Regions from separate parts of the Homo sapiens genome. Here region 1 is linked to region 2. Evidence: fine-mapped expression QTL. A gene starts in region 2. The other region holds a variant in brackets. All regions are shown on one strand. Distances are between the middles of the regions.

What was found. PIP is the estimated chance that this variant, and not a neighbour inherited with it, causes the effect.
Region 1: its variant is fine-mapped to the expression of PTBP2 in fibroblasts (GTEx, PIP 0.95).

What each region holds. Positions count from the first base shown.
Region 1 is chr1:96,816,928-96,822,318 of GRCh38, reverse strand. It overlaps a transcript of PTBP2 not described here. Among named protein-coding and RNA genes, the nearest start is that of PTBP2, 98 kb to the right of the region's middle. The variant C/G (reference allele first, on the strand shown) is at 3,036.
Region 2 is chr1:96,719,408-96,724,751 of GRCh38, reverse strand. It overlaps PTBP2 (polypyrimidine tract binding protein 2), which reads right to left and starts at 2,968. Exons shown (of 14, transcript NM_021190.4): 1 at 2,880-2,968; 2 at 1,158-1,188. The coding sequence starts at 2,887. RefSeq lists silencers at 2,493-2,772, 3,003-3,202.

The DNA.
Region 1 (5,391 bases), 98 kb before region 2:
AACAAACTGTTCTGTTTCTAACACTTGTGTCCCCAACACTTACCTCCAACCCAGGTAATACAACTACCTTCAAGAATCCTTTCCTAACTGCTAAAGATTGAGCACACTGTAATAACACCCAATAGTTCCTCCAGAAAATTTATCAACCCATATAATTCTTTACTTATCTCATACTGAACTGAAAGCCCCATGATAGGAAGAAATTGTGTTTTAGTTATTTAGGTTGGTGCAAAAGTAATTGTGGTTTTTCTAATTTTAACGGCAAAAATCGCAATTACTTTCGCACCAACCTGTATTTCATCCAAAGCATCTAAGCTGGCACATAGCAGGTAATGAACACTTGTTGAAAAAAAGAATTAAAGACTCTCAAGAGGTTAAATATTAGCAAATAGGCTGGGAGCGGTGGCTCACACCTGTAATCCCAGCAGTTTGGGAGGCTGAGGCAGGTGGATCATTTGAGGTCAGGAGTTCGAAACCAGCCTGGTCACATGGTAAAACCCTGTCTCTACTAAAAATACAAAAATTAGCTGGGTGTGGTGGTGGGTGCCTGTAATTCCAGCTACTCGGAAGGCTGAGGCAGGAGAATTGCTTGAACCCGAGAGGTGGAGGTTGCAGTGAGCCGAGATAATACCACCGCACTCCAGCCTGGGTGACAGAGCAAGACTGTGTCTAAAATAATAATAATAATAATAATAAAAGCAAATGTTAGCAATTTATGTGGCTAGTAATCCATATTTCTAGGAGCTATTTTCCTTGAAAGTTGGTAGTAATCCATATTTTTAGGAGCTATTTTCCTTGAAAGTTGATAGTAATCCATATTTTTAGGAGCTATTTTACTTGAAAGCATAATAATGGATGTTTTACACTGACATACAATCTTTAAAACTGAAACCAACCTCTTCTTAACTGTATAAAGTTAACTGCAGGTACACTCCTGCAGTTAACTTTATAAATAGATATAAAAAATTAAACTACTTTACAAAACAAAAATGGAAAGTCGAGGTAATAAATTAATCTCATATATACACTGTGTTATTCACAATGGTGTAGAGAGAAAAGAACAAAGACTTTGAGGTCGAAAAATGTCTCATAATTATCTCACCTTAAAATTGGGCCAAAAGTTGATTTTTGTACCACTAGATATTCCCAACCCTGTATTTCTACAGCATATTTCATATCTTACTTGAAACTACAAATAACACAAGACAGAAAAGACATGTACTATCATCACCTCCATTGTACAGATGAGAAAATGGACTTCGATAAATGAAGTGCCTTGCTCAAGCTACCATTGGTAAATGGTGATATGCTCAGCCTCCTGTTCCCTGATGTCCTTATTTTGCTATACTGTATACTGTCATAACATGAATCAGACTAGAAGCTATTTGAAAGTAGTAAGTCAGTTATACTATAACACAACATAAGCATTTCCAAGAATTGCCACACTATGCAAAATCATACAATAAAAACCACAGGACTTATGAGGAAAATGATAAGGTTAGGGCACAACACTCAAAATCTTCAACTCTGACACTAAAAAGGATAGAATTAATTTCTTAAAAGGCAGCACAGTTTACATGTTAAATGGTTAAGAAATATATAGACACTACTATAAATGACTTTATCTTGAAAAAGACCTGAAGTTTGCTTGAAAAAAAGAAGGTGTCAGATGTGTTGAAAACAGCTATCTGAAATTGGATAGGAAGTTATTAGCACCAGATATGGATGAGCGTGGCTTTTAACTTGTGGAAAACTGAGAATGCTAATAGATGTCTGAGGTATGTACATGTGTGCACACCATATATATATTTCTTACACAGCTGGTTCAGTTGGTTGTAATTTTCTGCTTTCATTTGTTTCTCAGGATGAAATCTTCAGTAAACATGAAATTCACATTATGCTTAAATTGTTCCCTAATATATTAAATATGCTAGAATATGCATTTTCAATGTCTAATAGAACCAGCTGTACTGTGGTTCTGTTTATCTTTGTATTCTCTACAATGTACATGGCAAATGTCCAACGTACATAGCAAATGTCTTCTGAGACATCAAAATGATCTTAGGGAAAAAAACACCTTCCATAAATAGAATGCCAAAAACTGCCCCCACCCCCAATTAGAGGAAAAGAAAAACTACTAATGGAATGGAACAGTATTTCACATAATCCTTATAAGTGAACATATGAAGTAATTCTCTCCATTTTACAGATGAGAAAATAATGGTTTTTAAATGTCTCTTATGTCAATGTCTATGCTTTTTCCAGAGTAAAAGTGTATTTATAATTAGAGCTATTATATATATATTACACTATAAAACTCCAAACTTAGGGCAAAGACAACTATAGCAATGTTTCTATCTCTTCCTGTAGCTAATTTCTAAGAATCATGACTATATGAATCAGAATCACATTTTAGAATTCTACAAATCTCCTTTTTAAAGGAGCTCTTTAACCGTAATTCTTCGACCAATTTCCCTCCACCATAGTTGAATATACCAGTAATAAATACATGAATGCTTCATGTAAATCACTACTAGTGATTTCAACCATCTGGAACCACTGCAATCTCAGAAGTTAAAAAGCAAAACAACACAAAACTGGAAAATAATAATAATAAAAAAAAAACCCACAAAAAAAGGGAGTGGGGGGAGGGAGGTTTTAAAGTGAACCAGATAAAAATAGCATAACACCTGAATATTACATAAAATGCACTATCATTTATCAACTCAATAACCACAAATAAAAAGAATCTAACTGGTTGATTATGGTTATAAAAAGTCTAAATCATTTAGTTGCAAAGAAGAGAATGATGGAAGAAAAACAGAGAAATAAACAGTGTTAAGTGATGGACAGCTAATGCAGCAACAAGGTTGAGAGAGAAATGGGGGTGGTAAGCAGGAAATAGTAAGACATGACAATAGATAAGATTGCTAGCCATAAGAATATTTTAAAATTTTGCTAAGGTTATGGGGAATAGCCCCTGAAGGCATACTTTGCACAGGTAATGTATATTTATAGTACAGCTCTAACTCTCA[C/G]AGAGAATATCAGTCATCATTCAGTAAGGCTTAGGCATTTCAACTGTTAGACTGTGCTATGCAATAGGAATAGAGAATGTGACTGAGGAAGCATTAATAGAAAAGCTATTTATGAAAATGACCTGAGTATCATTTCATTAAACCACAAAATGTAATAAACAAATCAGGAATTGAGTATTAATTTGCATTCTATTAAAAAAAATCAGTTCACATGGACATTCCTTCCCTGTCAGACTAAATTTGACTTTTAACACTAATCATACTGATTTCTATTATAAGCTATCAACTTGTACATAATAGTTTAAATTTATGAATAATAGCAGGCCTGTATTTCTTTTGATCAGTATTATACATTGAAGACTGGATTGGAAAGCCAGGGACTTGGATTCTAACTACAGGTAAGTTACAATAAATATGTTGCTAAACTATTCATTTGATCTCTAGAACTGTTTATCTTTAAAACAGCTGGTTAAAACTAGATATCCGGGTTCCTTTTCAGTTCAATTATTTCTTGGTATTAACTATATCTGCATAACTTAAAATTACTAATGAAATAATTTCCACACTCAGGAAAAAACTTTGAAGCTGATTTTTATAGAACTGAAAAAATGCATTGAGTGCTTCTCCAACTTATGTCCAAATGCATCACCTGCCAATCTTGTCAAAATGTAGATTCAGTAGGCTCATAGACTGAGTTTCTAATAAACTCCTAGGTGATACTAATTTGCCACTGGTCTGGTGACTATATTTTTAATAGGGAGGTTCTAGGATTTGAAGAAAAGTAGTATTGACCAGCTAGGCTAGTCTAGATATTAGAGAAAGCAACTATGACCACGAATAAAACAACACAAATATATGCTACAAAATTTCTTGATAAAATATATCTGGGATCTGCATTAATAAAGGAGATGAGAATTGGGTGGAGGAAACGAGGAAGATCTAAGTTGCTAACTGAAGCTGACAAGGGTTTGTTAAATATTCTTCTATTTTTTGTATGTTTGAAATATCTAAAAATGTTAAAATTTTCTGATTCAAAAACCTATACAACATACCAAGACAATAAACCAAGTGAATGAAAATAGAGATGCCACATAGTCTTTCTGTCCATTGAAATGGGAGCCAAAGAGGGAGGAAGAAAAGCGAGAGAAGTGCAAAACGGGTGGCTCTGTGAAGCTACAAAGGGTATGTTTGTATTTAAGGACCTTACACATAATTCAGCGTCTAAAATACCAATGATATAGCTCCTTGTTTACATCCTTAAGAGAAACCTGAGGCCCAAATGACTTATTTCTTAAACACAATTTAAAATCCTTGTTAAAAATTGGTTAAATGTCATGAGATTTGATAGGGGAATTATCAATGTCCAAACAGTCTGTTAAAAATTATAAAGTGTGTTTTGAACAATATTGTACTATTTAAACACCCAATATCATATTATTTGCCATTTTTATAACTAGGCAAAACAAGAAATTTAGCCTACAGAATATAGGACAAATTCCTCTTGAAAAGCAACCACTGAATAATAAAATACTAAACTGAAGGTAACAATTACCTCTTGGGAAAGAATAAGGTTTGAACTAAGATCAGAAAGAGGTTCATATGGGATTTCAGTTCATTCTGTAACGTTTTCTTTCAACTAATATATAATTACGTTTAAAATATGGAATATGTTAGGTAGTGATATAGTTGAGTGAAGTGCATAGGTGTTCATTACGGTTTTATTTTTCCGCGTATTTGAACAGTTCTTAATGTGAATAATCTAATACTCTATAACTTTAACATGTACACTTTTATTTGCAAAATCTGAAACTAGAAAATTTAAAGGGAAGCTATTCAAAATAACAAAGAATAACTATAAAACTAAGGTTTTGCATAATCAATGAATATTACGGTTTAAAATTAAGACTTTCTGCTGAATTCTTGCCATCAGATTTCCTAGTATACTCAATTTCACTGAATTCTGTACTTTCTTCTGAATGAAAAAAACGTTTTCAGATTTAGGCTCCATTTTAATATATTAAGGCAGCCAGAAAATCCTGTTTGAAGTTCAGAGCTGCTCATGAGAGTATGTCTTTCTTCCTTAGCCTTGAAATTCCTGAGTGTTAAAATTACCTGTTTCACAGCAACTTTTTTATACATATGAAATCTTAAGTGCAGTCTATAATTAAATATGTGCATTTTATGATTGGGCTATCAAGTTCAAACAGAAAATATAAAGCTAAATCCATGGTTTCTTTTCATCTGGCTTGGGATGCTCTCTATAACTGCATTTTACATCTTTCTGCTTTATGAAACTAGTAAATAATTTTAAAACATTAGTATTTCTTTGTAGCAAAAAGACATATTAGGATAACAT
Region 2 (5,344 bases):
TTAGGTATATCTCCTAAAGCTATCCCTCCCCCCTCCCCCCTATATCTCCCAATGCTATCCCTTCCCCCTCCCCCCATTATGGATACAATTTTAAGAATTCGAAAAAATGTTTGAACAGTCAGCATCACTGGACTAAGCAGAAAGCCTCTCAGGACAGAGAGGCTTGCAAATGAAAAATGACAATACAGGCCGGGCACGGTGGCTCACACTTGTAATCCCAGCACTTTGGGAGGTCAAGGCAGGCAGATCATAAGAGGCAGGCAGATCATGAGGTCAGGAGTTTGAGACCAGCCTGACCAACAGGGTGAAATGCCATTTCTACTAAAAATACAAATTAGCTGGGCGTGGTGGTGCGCACCTGTAATCCCAGCTACTCAGGAGGCTGAGGCAGGAGAACTGCTTGAACCCAGGAGGCAGAGGTTGCAGTGGGCCAAGATCGTGCCACTGCATCCAGCCTGGGCAACAGAGTGAGGCTCCGTCTCAAAAAAACAAAAAACAAAAAAAAATTACAATACATCATGACATTAAAAGTTGCAAGTACTCAAGAAAATGTTAAGCATTAGAACTAAAGTTTAAACGATGAGTAGTTTTCTTAGCCAAAAAGGAAGGATTCCAAAGGATCTCTACCATAAAGACTTTCTTTAATAGACAAACCAGCTCTTAACTTCTAATTCAAATTTGAAGCTAACTGCCTCAACAACTTCCTTTTTAAGGATCAGTGTAATTCATTTCTAATGTGCTTTATTATTAACCAAAATATATTCATTTTCATGACAAAAAGTAATAAAAAACAAAAAACTTAGATTAACAAAATTATAAGATATAGGTCAAACCACTTACCATCCATTTAAAATCATTATTTCCCCTCAGAAAATTGGGGTATCGTTTTATATTACAAGAAGCCATGTGTGAAAGCATTTTCAATTTCTTGATCATTCATACTTACTTTAAAAGGTTATTCTTACAGACTGACAGTTCTAGAAAAACTTATGGTGATTACAAACTGTTTATATGGTCCAACTTTACAAATGAAAGGAAACATTTTACACTTGGGTTTTGTTAGCTACGTTATAGTTTTCAAAAGCAAAAGCTAAAATTTTCCAGTAATTATGATAATAGATCCAACAATCCCAGTTTCAAACATAGTATTTTCCTACCTTCACGCCAACTGCAACCTCAGTGACGATTCTGCAAAGAAAAAATAAGTAGTTTCAACCTCCTGTTATTCTTCTAATCACTCACTCTTTGGCTCTAAAACTTTTTAGGATAGTCCATCATTCATAAATCTTCCAGCCACTCACACACAGATGGGGATAAAAAATACCACAGATGATCCGTGACTTACCTGTACTGTTACCAACCTGGTTTTCTAAAAGTAACTTTCAAATGTGAGACAACTTGTGGTATTTTTTAACAACACATTCAATAGCCAAAAAGAACAAAACCCAAAACACTATGCCATTTCTACAATGCCAGTATACTGAGATTAATAATTTAACGCTTAAACTCTTTAGTAGTCTCCACAGGAACCAGGAATCAGGAAACATGAATTCTAGTGCAAGTTTTGACATCAATTTCCGTGTTGATCTGGGGGGAATACTGAACTTCTCTGGATTTGTTTCATCTGGAAAATAATCTTTAGGTAACATCTAGGATGATTTGAATTCTGTGAGACTGTGTTAACTTTTATAAAATCTTGTTTTTAGTACCTTTTAAAACACACCAAACTCTAGGCGCTTAACCAAATTGTTGATTCTTCAAATACTCACTGATTTTAATAAATGTACTTGTTAAATGATACTATGTTTACACTCCCAAAAGAGCTGCATACTGCTGTATTTTTGACCTTAAGCGTGCCCCCTTTCTAACATTGAGTTAAATTACTGAGTCTTTTCAGGTGTGAAGCATATGAGCGAGACATCGGTCCCTACCATTTCACAGTCTTGCCTCTCACCTCACTCAGCATTCCGTCTTGACTCAGGTTCGCAAAGATGCAGCATGGTTCTGGGTTTTTATAGTCGTTTTTCCAGAAACTGACCAAAGTAGCTAAAGAGATAGCCCTTTGTTGACTATCTGCTCTTGTTTCTGCCATTGCTGTTGGCCTTTGCCCATGTGACTGATGTCGGCTTCAAACACTTCGTTTTTTAGATGATTTAATTTCTGGGCCCTTTTGCCAAGCCTTGAATGTTTTCAGTCCCCACAAAAAGGCATTTTTTCCTCCCTCCCGCCCCCACTACCAGACTCAAATGAAAACAAAGGAGTATGACATCTGCCCTCCCCCTTCCTCCCGCCGCCGCACGCCCTCCCCCCTTCCCCAGCGGCTCCCACTAGGCTTTCCCCGGAGCTCCCGCCACCGGCATCTCTCCCGACCACGGAGGGCCGGGCGAGGCCGGAGAGGTTGCTCATGGCTGGGGTCCACATGGGGTGCCTCTCTCCTCTTCCCCTAGAGGCTCCCCCAATCCAAAGGCCTGTCTCTGCCCATCCCACTCGCTCTCACAGGCACCGCTAACCCAAGGGTCGGGTCCCAAGGTACGGATCGAAATGGCTCCTAGAGGGGGCAGGGACAGACCGGGGAGACGTTATGGGGTTCCCACCCCATCCCCCGCCGCCAAGCCGGTGCCCGCTCCCACTCCGGGATCCTCACCCCCGCCATCGCCCCTATGCCTCCCCAGCCTCCAAGCCCGCTTTCTTCTCATTTTCTCGACCAAAGCCCGCCGGGGGAAGCAAAGGGAGGGGTGTGTGCGATGGGGCGGGGGTTGGGTAACGGCAGCCCAGCCCTGGGAGGGGCCGCGGGAGGGTTTCTCCCCGGCCCGGGACCGGGCCGAAGGACGGTCCAACTCCTCTCTCACACACACCTTCTCGCCGGCCCGATTACATACCCGTCCATTGCCGAACCGGACAAAGCTTCGCTCACAAGAACCGAGCCACGCAGCCAGCGAGCCACACAAGCGGCGAGAAAATGGCGGCTGGGGCCCGACGGAAATTGCCGAAGGTGCCGAGGCGCACGGGCCACCGCGCGGCAGCGGCGGCGGCGGAAAGAGCCGAGCGCGCCGGCGCCCGGCAGCGGGAGGCGAGCGGCAGGGCGCTGGGACTAGGGGGAGTGGGCGCCGCAGCCGACGCCTCCTCCGCGCCTTCGCGCGCCTTTCTCCCTCCGCCCTCCGCCTGCCGTCCTCTGGAACCTGGCGTTCTGCTGCAGACCGCGGCGACCTGGTTTCCCCTCCTTGTGGGGGCGTGGGTGGGACACCTCCCAACAGCTCTCCACACTCTCTCTGCCCTGACTGCAGGACGCCCCCAGGCAGCCTCCACTTTTCACTCCAAGCCAAGTACCAGCTTGGCTACCGTCAACCTATGCGGGCCAAGGAAAAAACATTGGATAGCTTTTCTCCTAAGCCATCTTTTATTTGCAGACCGGCTCCAGCCTCTAAAACAAAAATCTTTACCCCACTGAACGAGACCACTTGGTAACAACAGTACTTTCTCAAGCAAGTAGAACTCCTCAGACTGAAATACAGGCTTTTGCTTCAAGACCTGTAGTACCAAGCCAAGTGGAGGAAAATGTGATTCTCACTTCAGTTGGTGATTAGTGTGCGCCTGTAGAAAATATTCACAATACGCTAGGTGGAAATAGACACAAATGGAGCCATGTGTTAAAATGCTACAATAGTTGGAGTTTAACATTTGGAGGCATGAAAGGGAAAGTGGAGATGGGAGTGGGAACAACTGAGTCTTCAGATTGGTTAGAGAAAGTAGAAGCATTAAAATGGGCTATGCAAATTGACTCCCTTTGCTATATCTTACGGTCTCAATTTTTACTTGATACTATAGTGGACATTTTACTTCAACGTGTTTTTATCAGAGGCTCAACAAAATTGGGAAAGGCACCCGCTTGAAAATTTGCTCAGTGAGTAGCGACTTTGCCAGTACCCATCCTTCTCCTGCACCCTTCACCTCCACCCCCAACACACACAAGGACAAATGCACTTCTAATTCTGAAAAATGACAAATACTCCCTGTGTCCCTCCAGTTACTCTCAATACTCACTCTGGGTTTTTCTGTGTCTCCTTCAGGCAAAGCTCTTATCCTTTGCTAATTGGAATTTCATATACTAAATGATATTGTGTATAATTTTTAGAATTTTTTTTTTTGAGACCCAGTCTCGCTCTTGTTGCCCAGGCTGAAGTGCAATGGCGCAATCTCGGCTCACTGCAACCTCGGCCTCCCTGGTTCAAGCGATTCTCCTGCCTCAGCCTCCCGAGTAGCTGGGATTACAGGCACGCGCCACCACGCCCAGCTAACTTTGTATTTTTAGTAGAGACAGGGTTTCTCCATGTTGGTCAGGTTGGTCTCGAACTCCTGACCTCAGGTGATCTGCCCTCCTCAGCCTCCCAAAGTGTTGGGATTACAGGCGTGAGCCACCGTGCCCGGCCATAAATAATATTACTTTTAAATTGGATAGACCCTTAAAGAGCATCTTGTCCAAACACTTTGCTATAGAACTCTTCAAAGCACCCAAATTTTTACAAATTCTTGATTTGCCTATGGGATTGTCAATCGTTAAAAAAAAAAAAAAAAAAGGCCGGGCACGGTGGCTCACGCCTGTAATCCCAGCATTTTGGGAGGCCGAGGCAAGCAGATCACCTGAGGTCGGGAGTTCAAGACCAGCCTGACCAACATGGAGAAACCCCGTCTCTTCTAAAAATACAAAATTAGCCGGGGTGGTGGTGCATGTCTGTAATCCCAGCTACTCGGGAGGCTGAGGCAGGAGAATCGCTTAAACCTGGGAGGCCGAGGTTGCGGTGAGTCAAGATCGCGCCATTGCACTCCAGCCTGGGCAACAAGAGCGAAACTCTGTCTCAAAAAAAAAAAAAAAAAAAAAAACCACATATCAAATTTCCTACAATAACCACTTCACCTTAAACCTTAAAATAAAGGATCTGTTATTAGTGCCACTAATAATCACTTTTCACATATTTGTGGTTTCATACATGTGTTTTCACTCAACAATTGAATGTGCAAGCTACCAAAGGGCGGGAACTATGGTATTAATTCTTGGTATTCCCCACATTCGCTCGATCGATATTGATTGATTGGTTCTCACTTTATCTTGGCAAAGACAAACCATTCTATGAGGAGGGAAGCTTGTCCTTAGGCAGCAGAAGAAATTACAGTGTTCACAAAAACACATTTTTCTTTATTTTTTTTTCGAATACGGTACAAGACCACAAACATACAATAGTTAATCTGCTTGCTTATTTAAGCTAACAGTTTCTTGGAAAAATGCAAGGTAATTTACAAGTCAAGGCACATAAAGTACTAGATTAAGACATGAAGTGAAATAAGAATA